Linked DNA regions of Homo sapiens: all the other regions are reported to be linked to region 2. The links are microRNA targets in miRTarBase. Many come from high-throughput screens and were not tested one by one. Region 2 holds a microRNA gene; each other region holds the end of a gene's coding sequence.
What was found. The annotated mature microRNA hsa-miR-1255a reads AGGAUGAGCAAAGAAAGUAGAUU and lies in region 2 at 1,350-1,372, shown strand. An mRNA with a match to its seed (bases 2 to 7 or 8) in the 3' UTR can be bound and repressed. Matches are read on the target gene's strand: a 7mer-m8 pairs with bases 2 to 8, a 7mer-A1 pairs with bases 2 to 7 and ends in A, and an 8mer does both.

Region 1 (4,161 bases), not on the chromosome of region 2:
GTGGTGGGGAGGGTGGGTACCAGGAGCAAGGGACAAGATGTTGTGGGGGCAGGGTGGGGGGGAAGAGTAGAAGATCAAAGTGTGGGGGTGTTGTACTTGGGGGAGCATGGGAAGAGCTCAGGTGACAGAGCCAAAGGTCTCAACTCCTCCCCTAGCTTCTCCAGGCAGCCACCAACTACCACAACGGGCACACAGGCCAGCTCTCAGCCATCACAGTCTTCCTGCTGTTTGGGGGCTCCCTGGCCCGAATCTTCACTTCCATTCAGGTGAGTGCAACATCTTCCTTCTAGAAGGCACTAAAACCTCGTCTTACTTCTCCCAGCTAAGGGCCAAAGCTGCCCCGTGAGGAACCTTTGTCCATAAGGGAACCTTTCTTGAGCTATGCTGAAGGGTAACCCTGGCTCTGTCTCTTGCAACCAGGAAACCGGAGATCCCCTGATGGCTGGGACCTTTGTGGTCTCCTCTCTCTGCAACGGCCTCATCGCCGCCCAGCTGCTCTTCTACTGGAATGCAAAGCCTCCCCACAAGCAGAAAAAGGCGCAGTAGAGCCAGCTACTGGAGTCATTCCGTTTCCACTCATTCACCCAACCTCAGGGTTCTCCCCATCTGAGCCAGCCTGCTGGTGTGACTTACTCATCCTCCATTCCTCTGCACTTGCAGACTTTCTGAGCCAGGGTTTTCTTTTAGTGGAAACAAATGGTTGATGGATCCAGATCCTTAGAAAAGGAGAGGATGGGGGTAGAGTCTCCCAAGCCAAAATTTTGACATTTGAGTGCTTTCGTAAGCCCTGTACATGTACTATTAATTCAGTCATTCAGCCAAGCCTCCTCCTCTAGCAGCAATTTCCAGCTGTGTAACACTATCCTGGGCAAATGTTTTACCCTGTCCTCCAGCCTCCCTGCTTCCCTTCTGGCCCTGGAAGACTGAGTCTGGACGGCAGAGTGGAGGGACTGGGAGGCTGTGGCTGCCTCCCTCCCTCAGCCCGGCTGGGACTGTCTCCCGGACCCCAGTGCTGGGGTGGGGGAAGGGGGACGGAGAATGACTCAGGCAGGGCCCCAGGGTGGGGTGAGGAGGTTCCTGCTCTGGCAGGTCTAGGCGGAAGGGAGTGGAGATGGGGCTGGTTCCTGCTGCAGTGAGGGGAACAGATGGGACAATAAAGACTGGAGACTCAGTTGAATAATACAAAACTGTTTAATACTACCAAAAATATAATTGTATGTTGTGCGGCTCTCCCTGGCTATCATGGGAGGACTGCAGGCTGCCTCTGAACTGTAGTCCAACAGGAGAAAGGGTTGACAGCCTGGGGTAGGGGATGCTGCTGGATTAAAAAAGGAGGATGAGGCCCGTCCCGTGAGGTCTGCGTCCATGAGGGTTAGAGGTGGGTTAGGGGCATGGGGGCACCAGCAAGGGGAGGGTTGTATGGAGTGGGAGAGCCAGGGGGCAGGTAGTGGGTATAGGTGGGCAGCAGTTCCCCCTGGAGCCTAGGGTCACTCTGAGGGAGGGAGCACGGTGAGGGGGCTTCCAGTTTGCAGTGGGAAGAGCTGCAGAGAGAAACAAGAGGTTAGAGGGCACTTCCCTGGGTTGGAGGTGAGTCTGGCCAGTTCTGGGCAGACAGGGTAGAGCGTGCCACCCACCCAGCCCTGGCTACCCAGCCCGCTGGGCGCAGCAGGCATGGAAGCCGACCCCGGGATGGAGAGCCCGCGGCCCTGTTGGGGCACGCTCGGGAGCGGGCTTGCGTGCTGCACGGCTGTTTTCCTCTTGGGGAGTCAGGCCAGGAAAGGGCAGAATGAGCTCGGCCTCTCCTTGCCCTGGGGGCTGGGAGAGGAAGCTGGGTCACACACAGGCCAGAAGCAGGGGGGAAACGGGGCATCTAACTAGGACACAGTCGCATCCAGGGGTCAGTCACCTGACCCTACAGGGCCCACCACCTTCAGACTGAGATGGAAACGCCCTCTGGGAGAACCCTGATCCGCCCCACCCTACACAGGCCCCGGAGGTACTGGGCCTGCGCCCGCCACACCTTGGCCGCGAGTGGCCTCTGCTTGGGTGGGCTCCCGTCCTCCGGCATCCGCCCCCACCAAGGCTCCAGAAGAGGGGCGCATGGGCCTCCGTCTTCGGCCCGCTTCCCAGGCACTCACCCATAGCTGCCAGGCAGGTAGGCTGTCGAGTAGCTGGGGGGTCTGTACCCAAAGCCTCTGCTCGGTTGGGTGGTCGCGTACCCCGGCCCCCAGAGCGGGCCGCCGCTGGCCAGGTTGCCTCTTCCCTGTCCGCAGCGGGAAGGTCCGGCGCCCGAGCTCTTGGCCTTGCGCCGAGGCCGGTACTTGTAGTCGGGGTAGTCGCGCAGGTGTCGGGCGCGGAGCCGCTTGGCCTCCTCCACGAAGGGCCGCTTCTCGTCCTCGTCCAGCAGCTTCCACTGCGCGCCCAGGCGCTTGGAGATCTCGGAGTTGTGCATCTTGGGGTTCTGCTGCGCCATCTGGCGGCGCTGAGCGGAGCTCCACACCATGAACGCGTTCATCGGCCGCTTCACCTTCTCCAGGGGCAGCGTCCCGGGGGCCGCGGGGCTCCCAGCGCCCTCCCGCTCCTGGGGTCCCGAAGATGAGGAGGCAGCAGCCGTGGCAGCCGGAGGCTCCAGGCTCCAGGCCTGGTCCTGTGAGGAGCCTGGTAGCGCCATGGGTTGGGAGAAGCCTTAAGAGGGCGTCCTGAATGCCCTCCCCTCAACGTGAAGCGTCGATCCTGAAAATGGAAAGGTCTTCCCAGTCTGGAGTCGTTGCCGAGGAACTTGGGTCCTTAAAAAGTGTATTTTATCCCCAAGCCCAGAGCTTAAACCGGAGCCTTTGCTTCCAACCTGTTCGGCACACTTTGGGGAGAGTCGAATGCAAAATCCGCTGTCTGGTGCCCCGGCACTGAAGAGGTGTTCTGAGGCCTACTGACTGGGGGACCCCCGGTCCCTCTCCCCGACCCGCAGCTGCGATCAGACCGACCTTCCGTGGAGGGGGTAAACCATAAACCCCTTTGTGGTCTCCGGAGTTCCGACAGCTGCCAGGCGCGGATAGGCCAGACCTCTCCCACCTGGGCTCAGCGTTTGTGGCAGGCGGGCCAGACCTGGGAACAGCTTTTAAAGACTGACTCCGCCCCTGTCCCTCCCATAAGACTGCACCTCCTTAAGGGCGCCAACATCCTCAGCCCGTAGGTAAACCCAGGTGTCCTGTTTGTCCCAGCCCCCAACACCCTCAGGGTGCCACGCCCCCCGCCCCCCCCACCCAAGACCTGATGTCAGGCCTTCCAGCCCGTTGCTGATTGCCTCCCCTCCCTGAAGCACAGGCAATTTAAAGCCAATTCTTTCCACAATGGGATCAAACACAGGGGGATGAAGTGCCCTCAGGGCCCGAGTTGTGCTGAGAGGAGCTTGGGAGCATCCCGGACCACCACCCCAACCCCTTTCCTGGTGCCTGTTGCTCCTCAAATCCCAGAACTGCCCCTGGGGCAAGAAAGGCCGAGGAGGGAGACCATTTTTGTTTCCTGAGTCATTCCAGCAGGTGCTTGGGCCGTGATTCAACCCCTTTCCCAAGTGAGAAAACTTAAGCCCTCCCAACTCCAGTCCCTAAACCTATATTTCTCCACTGCTATTGAATTATGGCAAGTTTTAGCTTCAGTCGTCCAAGTCATGAGGGGGGAGCCAGGAAACCCAGGACAACTCCCCAAGTTAAGAGGTCTGTGATGCGCATGCCGGAGAAAAAGCCTGGAGCCAGAACAGAACACCACCAAGAAGGCCGGACCCCGGGCTCCAGAGGCTGCTGTGAGGGAACCCTGCTCCCCACTCTGCCCAACGGCCCAGCCCAAGCCCCAGGCCTCAGGTAATCGGATTAAGCAGCCTGCCTTGGCTCTCAGCTTCTACAGGAACAGCTCCAGCTCTGAGCAGCCCTGCCTAGCCTGTGCTGTGACTCAGGGTATAGGAGTGGCCCAACTCCCTCTACCAGCAAACTTGGGGGAGGGGAGAAGCAACAAGGCACAAGCCCCCCTCCTCTGAACCAGGAGGGAGAACCTGGGCCTGGGGAGTTTAGGAATGTCAGGAATTCCCAGAAGTAAGACCATCTTTGGGACAAGAGACAATGAAGAGAAGTCAGATGTGGAGGAACAGAAAACAAGAGCCAGGGGCCAGGG
Region 2 (4,231 bases):
GTATTCTGATTGTTTATCTGTGTTTGGCATATAATAAAAGTTGATTGAGCTGAAGGACTTAAAAACCTGAAGCACACCTTCCATGCTTTTCATTTGCTTTACCTCTGCATGGAACACTTTTAATCTGTCTCTCCTGTGTGAAACTTCTCTGAAACCCTTACCAGCTGTCTGTGCTGCTACTTGTCTGTTGTACGCACGATGGATCACAAATGTTGGCAACATTTTTTCTTCATTAACTGAGAAATCTCTGAGGGGCAGGGTCTTATCCAGTTGATCTCTCCAGTGCTTAGTGCAATGCCTGGCACATTATTCTTCATTTGTTTTTTTACAACAAAAAAATTGACTGGGGAAGATATTTCTGTTTATTATACAAGAATAATGAAGCAAAGTACTTCCTGTCCTCCCTTCTATTCTAAAAATTTTAATGACATTAATATCCATGCCTTGCATGTATATTACCTCATTTTAAGTACCTTATGCAAAGTTTCCTAGTGAGTAAGTGGTAGATCAGGTATTTGGACTCCAAGTCGTGACTCAGATCCTGGGCTTTTACCACCATAACACTAACTTCAGGGCAAGATGAGGCCAAATATATTAGATGGTGTCAGTGAATTGATAGAAAATACTTGTTATTAGGGATTTCTTTTTATATAAAATATCATTGCTCCTGGAAATCATTTTGGCTGAACATCTGTGGCATTTTCTGTGGGAGAAAAATCTAATACTTTTCGTGGGGCAGATATTTTTGTCTTCTTTGTAGAAATATGTAGTTGAGGCCCACAACAATGGGACTGGACCATAAATTATGCTTTTCTTGGCATTATTGACCTTATTATGGTGTTATAACACAAACGATCCAAAACATAAAAAGAAGTACCAACTATGAGATCCATAAAAAAGTCATTTTAATTGGACCTTAAGTTTTTCCCCTAGGTTAAGGCTATGAAAAAAAAGTGTAGTGCTAGTTATTGTACACTGTTAGCCTTTTTTTGTAGACGTTGCCTTTTTATACAGGCATATTTTAGAGATATTGTGGCTTTATACAGGCATATTTTGGAGATATTGTCGGTTTGGAGATATTCCAGACTGCCACAATAGAGCGAATATCACAGGAAAGCTAGTCACACAAATTTTTTGGTTTCACAATGCATGTTAAAGTTATGTTTACACTATACTGTAGTCTGTTAAGTGTGCAATAGCATTATGTTTAAAAAAGCAATGTACATACTTCACTTAAAAAATACATAACCGTTGTGCTAATGATCATCTGAACTGTCAGTGTCTTGGGGTGGCTGTTGCTTTATCAGCTAAATGTATGTAGTATTGGAAATCCTTTGAGTTGCTTCTCAAGGATGAGCAAAGAAAGTAGATTTTTTAGATTCTAAAGAAACTATCTTCTTTGCTCATCCTTGAGAAGCAACTCCTTATCCATTAAAATTTTATCATGGGATTGCACCAAGTCAGTCCTATCTTCAGGATTCACTTTTAATTCTAGTTCTCTTGATATTTCTACCACATATGCAGTTACTCCCTCCTCTGAAGGCTTAAATTCCTTAAAGTCAGTTTATTTCAAACTCTTGTTAATGTGGATATTTTGACCTCTTTCATTAATCATGAATGTGCTTAATGGCATCTAGAATGGTGAATCCTTTCCAGAAGGTTTTCAATGTACTTTGTCCACATCTGTTAGAGGAATCACTATGTATGGCAGTGACAGTCTTATGAGATATATTTCTTAAATAGTACAATTTGAAAGTTTAAATTACTCCTTGATCCATGGACTGCAGAATGGGTGCTGTGTACAAGATCAGAGCTCTTGGATGACTAGGTGCATTGCAAAGAGCAGTAATATTTTGAAAGGATTTTTTTTTTTTCCCTGAGCAGTAAATCTCAATCTCAGCCAAGAGCTTAAAATATTCAGCAAACAATAACAATGCTGTAAACAGATGTGCTGTTATCCAGGCTTTGTTGTTCCACTTACGGAGCACAGGCAGAGTAGATTTAGCATAATTCTTAAGGGCTTTAGGATTTTCAGAATGGTAAATGAGCATGGGCCTCAACTTAAGTTACCAGCTGCATTAACCCCTAAAAAGAGAGTCAGCCTGTCCTTTGAAATTTGAAGCCAAGAGTTCACTTCCCCTCTCTAGCTGTGAAAGTCCTAGGCAGCATCTTCTTCCAATAGAAGGCTGTTTCATCCCTATTGAAAATTTGTTATTGAGTGTAGCCGCCTTCATTAATGATCTTAAGCAAGGTCTCCTGGATAACTTGCTGTAGCTTCTACATTAAAATTTGCTGCTTCACTTTGCATTTTTATGTTGTGGAGATGGCTTTTTGCCTTAAATGTCATGAACCAACTTCTGCTAATTTCCAACTTTTTCTCTGCAGCTTCCTCACCTCTCTCAGCCTTCATGGAATTGAAGAGAGTTAGGGTCTTGGCTGCTGATTAGGTGTTGGCTTAAGAGAATTTTGTGATTGGTTTGATCTATCCAGACCACAAAAACTTTTCTTATATTGGCATTAGGCTCTTTAGCTTTCTTATCATTTGTGTGTTCACTAGGTAGCACCTTTAATTTCTTTGAAGAACTTTTCCTTTGCATTCACAACTTGGATGTTTGGCGCAAGAGGCCTAGCTTTGGGCCTGTCTCCACTTTTGATATGCCTTGCATGATAAACTTAATCATTTCTACCTTTTGATTTAAAGTGAAACATGTGCAACTTTTCACTTGAACAGTTAGAGACCATTTTAGGGTTATTAATAAGCCTCATTTTCAATATTATTTTGTCTCAGGGAGTAGGGAGGCCCAAGGAGAGACAGAGAGAGATGGGTAAATGACTGGTCAGCACAGCAGTCAGAGTACACACATTTATTTGTTAAATTTGTTGTCTTATATCGGTGTGACATGAGGTGCTTTAAAACAATTACAATAGTAACATACAAAACCATGGATCACAGATTACCATAACATACAATAATAATGAAAAAGTTTGAAATATTGTGAGAATTACCAAAATGTCACAAGAGACACAAAGTGAGCACATGCTGATGGAAAAATGGCACCGCTAGACTTGCTTGTGACAGAATTGCTATAAATCTTCAATTTGTAAAAAATGTAATACCTGCAAAGTGCAGTGAGGCAAAACACAATAAGTGAGGTATGCCTGTATTCATTTTCATATTTTTGTTGCTGAAGCAAATAAAGGAAGCCACACATAGCTAAAGTGAAAGCCACTTCAAGGAGACGTCACATGAAACATTTTGAGGAGGGAGTTATGTGGTTTCATTGTAACATTTTAGATGCAAATGTGAATTGTTTTGAGATCAGAATTTTTCATTTACTACTTTTAACTATTCTTGTACTATGATGAATGTTTAGGGTTAGCCTAGTTATACAATTCTTAAATTGTTTGAAAGAAAAGATGGTGATTGAGAATTTTAGTGCTTCTCCTGAGGCAGGTGATTGGAGACAGTTGTTTGTTCTTGTGATTCATAAACGCATTTTGAATCCAACTGAACCTTGTTTGATTCACTTTGAGAAATTCTGTGGTTGAGGTAGTTGCAGGTCATAGGTTTAGGTGTAAGAGAAGATTTAACACCCTGCCCTGATTTCCTGGGTCTGTAAATTCGGGGAGCTCCAATTTCACACGGAGGCCTCTTACCATCTCTTGCTTCATGGTGAATACCTCTGCATGTGGGAAAATTTCTTCCTGCTGGAATCAGCTTAGGTTCATATTTTCTTTTTCTTCTTTTTTTCCCTGGTGATATTTTTGTGGACCCTGAACTTCAAATATATTTTTTTTGGTTGTTGTTTATGAAAGGTGTCCAGTACCATGTAGATGAAAAATTTGAGTAACGTTCATACAACTAGAGTGTTTTGTTGACAGTTCTCATTTTGTTAATATATATTTATTGAAATGTAAGGGTTTTCATGGCCTGAAAAAACAAAATATGCATTACAACTTTCCTGCTGTGTGTGTTTATTTCAGTTCTGAAGCTAGCCTGAAATAACCTCTACTTTATAAGGAAATTGATGCTGAGTTGTCATTATGCCCAACATTTATAATACATATACAGCTAATTTGAATGTTATAAGTATAGAAAAAATATCAGGTAAGTCTGTATTCAAATAGGAATATCAAAGTAAAATAACCAGTGATTAAACATTCCAGTGGTAGTACATGGGAACCAAGTGAGAAAATATGTAAGAAACATGCTTGGATTTTTTGTTTGTCT
Region 3 (4,231 bases), not on the chromosome of region 2:
AGAATCTTTATTTTAAGCACTCCCCTGACCCCCAGTGATTCTGATGAAACCAGTCCATGGACTAACATTTGGAAACCATTAAAACTGAACTAGAGAATAGGGTGTAGACTATTCAGTAGTTCGAAGTCATTAATAAAGGAGGATTTGATACCACTTTATCAAGCACGTCACAGAATCCTACAGCAGTCGTTCTCAACCTCGGCCCCACTTTGGAATCTCCCAGGGGGCTTTTGAAAAATGCTGATGCCTGAGCCTCACCCTCAGAGATTCTGGTTGGAGTGGTCTGGGGTGTGGACTGGGCATCAGGATTAGCTGCCACCAGGGAAAGATGGACACTGAGAGTGAAGTCCCAGGAGAGGGTACGCAGGGTAGCACGCTTTGCTCTCCTTCCTTTTTCTCTAGAGACTTCTGGGAAGGAGCCCACCTGGAACTTCTGGAAGTACCTAGTAGCCCCAGATGGAAAGGTGGTAGGGGCTTGGGACCCAACTGTGTCAGTGGAGGAGGTCAGACCCCAGATCACAGCGCTCGTGAGGAAGCTCATCCTACTGAAGCGAGAAGACTTATAACCACCGCGTCTCCTCCTCCACCACCTCATCCCGCCCACCTGTGTGGGGCTGACCAATGCAAACTCAAATGGTGCTTCAAAGGGAGAGACCCACTGACTCTCCTTCCTTTACTCTTATGCCATTGGTCCCATCATTCTTGTGGGGGAAAAATTCTAGTATTTTGATTATTTGAATCTTACAGCAACAAATAGGAACTCCTGGCCAATGAGAGCTCTTGACCAGTGAATCACCAGCCGATACGAACGTCTTGCCAACAAAAATGTGTGGCAAATAGAAGTATATCAAGCAATAATCTCCCACCCAAGGCTTCTGTAAACTGGGACCAATGATTACCTCATAGGGCTGTTGTGAGGATTAGGATGAAATACCTGTGAAAGTGCCTAGGCAGTGCCAGCCAAATAGGAGGCATTCAATGAACATTTTTTGCATATAAACCAAAAAATAACTTGTTATCAATAAAAACTTGCATCCAACATGAATTTCCAGCCGATGATAATCCAGGCCAAAGGTTTAGTTGTTGTTATTTCCTCTGTATTATTTTCTTCATTACAAAAGAAATGCAAGTTCATTGTAACAATCCAAACAATACCTCACGATATAAAATAAAAATGAAAGTATCCTCCTCATTTTCCATAGTCTCCCTCCCTAGAGGTAAACAGTGTTAGCAGTTTGGTACAAAGGCTGCCAGGCCTTTGGTTAAGCCAATCATTATTGCCCAATAAGAACTCAGTGACCGGGCACGGTAGCTCACGCCTGTCATCCCAGCACTTTGGGAGGCCAACGTAGGTGGATCACCTGAGGTCAAGAGTTTGAGACCAGCCTGGCCAACATGGTGAAAACCCATCTCTACTAAAAATACAAAAATTAGGCTGGGCGCGGTGGCTCACGCTTGTAATCCCAGCACTTTGGGAGGCCAAGGCGGGCGGATCACGAGGTCAGGAGATCGAGACCAACCTCGCTAATACGGTGAAACCCCGTCTCTACTAAAAATACAAAAAATTAGCCGGGCGTGGTGGCGGGCGCTTGTAGTCCCAGCTACTCTGGAGGCTGAGGCAGGAGAATGGTGTGAACCCGGGAGGCGGAGCTTGCAGTGAGCAGAGATCGTGCCACTGCACTCCAGCCTGTGCACTCTAGCCTGGGCGACAGAGCAAGACTCCGTCTCAATAATAATAATAATAATAAAAATAAAAAAATAAAAATACAAAAATTAGCCTGGCATGACCGGGCACAGTGGCTCATGCCTGTAATCCCAGCACTTTGGGAGGCTGAGGCGGGTGGATCACCTGAGGTCAGGAGTTTGAGACCAGCCTGGCCAACATGGTGAAACCCCGTCTCTACAAAAATATAAAAATTAGTCGGGCATGATGGCAGGTGCCTGTAATCCCAGCTACTCTGGAGGCTGAGGCAGGAGAATCGCTTGAATCCGGGAGGCAGAGGTTGCTGTGAGCGGAGATAACGCCACTGCATTCTAGCCTGGGCAGCAGAGAGAGACTCTGTCTCAAAAAAAAAAAAAATTCACTGAGTAATCCACTAGCCAAAAGTACACCTCAATAACAAATAGGCAAAGGAGATGAATAGATAGTTCACGGAAGACTATAGATGCGTAATAAGGATACAAAAAGATGTCCAGCCTCATTGAAGTTGGAAAGTTTTTTGTTTGTTTGTTTTGTTTTTGTGATGGAGTCTAGCTCTGTCACCCAGGCTGGAGTGCAGTGGCACAGTCTCGGCTCACTGCAAGCTCTGCCTCCCAAGTTCACGCCATTCTGCCTCAGCCTCCCGAGTAGCTGGGACTACAGGCGCCCACCACCACGCTCAGCTAATTTTTTTTTTTTTGTATTTTTAGTAGAGGCGGGGTTTCATCATGTTAGCCAGGATGGTCTCAATCTCCTGACCCAGTGATCCGCCCGCCTCGGCCTCCCAAAGTGCTGGGATTACAGGCGTGAGCCACTATTCCCGGCCGAAAGATATTTTTTTAATGATAATACCCCTGGTTGGCAGGGATGTGAGGAAATGGGCATTCACATAAACTGTGGTACGATAAACTGGCACAAGTGTTTGGAGGGTGATTTGGCAATATCTTTTAAAACAAAATGCTCATACCTTTTGTTTTTGCTTTTTGTTTTGAGACAGGGTCACACTCTGTTGCCCAGGCTGAAGAAGAGTGGCTCGATCGTAGCTTACTGCATCCTTAGCCTCCTGAGTAACTAGGACTGCAGGCACACGCCACCATGCAACATAGTGGGACCCCACCTCTACAAAAAAATATTAGCTGGCCATGGCAGTGCATGCCTGTAGTCCCAGCTATCAGGAGGCTGAGGTGAGAGAATTGCTAGAGCCTGGGAGGTCAAGGCTGCAGCGAACCGTAACCATGCCACTGCACTCAGCCTGGGTGACAGAGGAGACCTTGCCTCAAATTATAAACTAATATGGTTATTAAAATGAATGAATGAAGTCTCCATATGCTACCATAGAAAGTTGTCCAAAAGTGAAAAAATGATAAGTTGTAAAACAGAATGAACACATTCACATACCCAGAAAAACCAGTATGAACAAGTGTAATGTTTTTATTAAAAATGTACAATGTTGCTGGGTGCATTAGGTGGCTCACGCCTGTAATCCCAGCACTTTGGGAGGCAGAGGTGGGAGGATTGCTTGAGCCCAGGAGTTCAAGACCAGTCTGGGCAACATGGCAAGACCGTGTCTCTGCAAAAAAATTTAAAAATTAGCCAGGCGTGGTCACTCACACCTGTAGTCCCAGCTACTCAGGAGGCTGAGGCAGGAGGATTGTTTGAGCCCAGGAGGTTGAGGCTGCAGTGAGCCGTGTTTGCGCCACTGTACTCCAGCCTGGGCAATGGGAGTGGACCCTGTCCCAAATTTTTAAAAAATTTACAATGTTAAGTGGGAGGGAAAGAGAGAGGGAAAAATATAGACCAAACTCTTAATGGTGGTTGTCTGCGAGGGGCTGAGGTAGGATAACAGGAGTCATTTTCATTAAGTTTCTGTAATGTTTGAATTTTGTATGTCAAATCCATATTTCACCTTTATATAAATGTGGAAAGGTGGCTAAAAATTGGGGTGCAGCCTGGGAAACACAGTGAGACTTCATCTCTACAAAAAATCAAAAAATTAGCCAGGTGTGATGGTGCACACCTATAGTCCCAGCTACTCAGGAGGCTGAGTGAGGAGAGTCACTGGAGCCTGGGAGTTTGAGGCTGCAGTGAGCTATGATCACGCCACTGCACTCCAACCTGAGCAACAGACCAAAATACTATAAAAAAAATGGGGTGATGGGCAGAGTCACTGGTAGATAATTCATTGGCCAATAAGAATTTCAGGTGTACTTTATCTAAGGTCACTCTTCTAGAAGTCTGGAGACTCAGATTCAAGTTCCTGTTGTGCCCCTGACTCACAGCAAATTCTTCCCTCTCTCCTGTCCTCCGTTTTCTCACTGGACAATGAAAGGGTTAAACCGTGCTTAGGATTTTCACAGTCTCCCTTCATGGTGCTTCTCAAAAGCTAACAAAAGTAAAGTGAAGGCTGTCCATGGGGTGACCACAGCCCCTCCTATGGTGGCCTCTCAGCTGCCCTTACACACCCTCCTCTTAGCTGCAGCTCTGCATGTACTTGTGTGCATGCACACACACACAGTGAAGCCCAGCTTGCAC

Region 1: miRTarBase lists MPDU1 as a target of hsa-miR-1255a. Seed matches in the 3' UTR shown: 7mer-m8 at 633-639.
Region 3: miRTarBase lists GPX7 as a target of hsa-miR-1255a. Seed matches in the 3' UTR shown: 7mer-m8 at 591-597.

What each region holds. Positions count from the first base shown.
Region 1 is chr17:7,587,006-7,591,166 of GRCh38, forward strand. MPDU1 (mannose-P-dolichol utilization defect 1) reads left to right here. Exons shown (of 7, transcript NM_004870.4): 5 at 1-12; 6 at 156-266; 7 at 421-1,207. The coding sequence ends at 546. It overlaps SOX15 (SRY-box transcription factor 15), which reads right to left and starts at 3,089. Exons shown (of 2, transcript NM_006942.2): 1 at 2,139-3,089; 2 at 1,173-1,541. The coding sequence starts at 2,671. The coding sequence ends at 1,373. RefSeq lists an enhancer at 2,233-2,807.
Region 2 is chr4:101,327,506-101,331,736 of GRCh38, reverse strand. MIR1255A (microRNA 1255a) reads left to right here and starts at 1,323; the gene lies at 1,323-1,435. The region is part of intron 1 of PPP3CA (protein phosphatase 3 catalytic subunit alpha); the gene reads left to right.
Region 3 is chr1:52,607,860-52,612,090 of GRCh38, forward strand. GPX7 (glutathione peroxidase 7) reads left to right here. Exons shown (of 3, transcript NM_015696.5): 3 at 403-1,192. The coding sequence ends at 566. Among named protein-coding and RNA genes, the nearest start is that of GPX7, 7.6 kb to the left of the region's middle.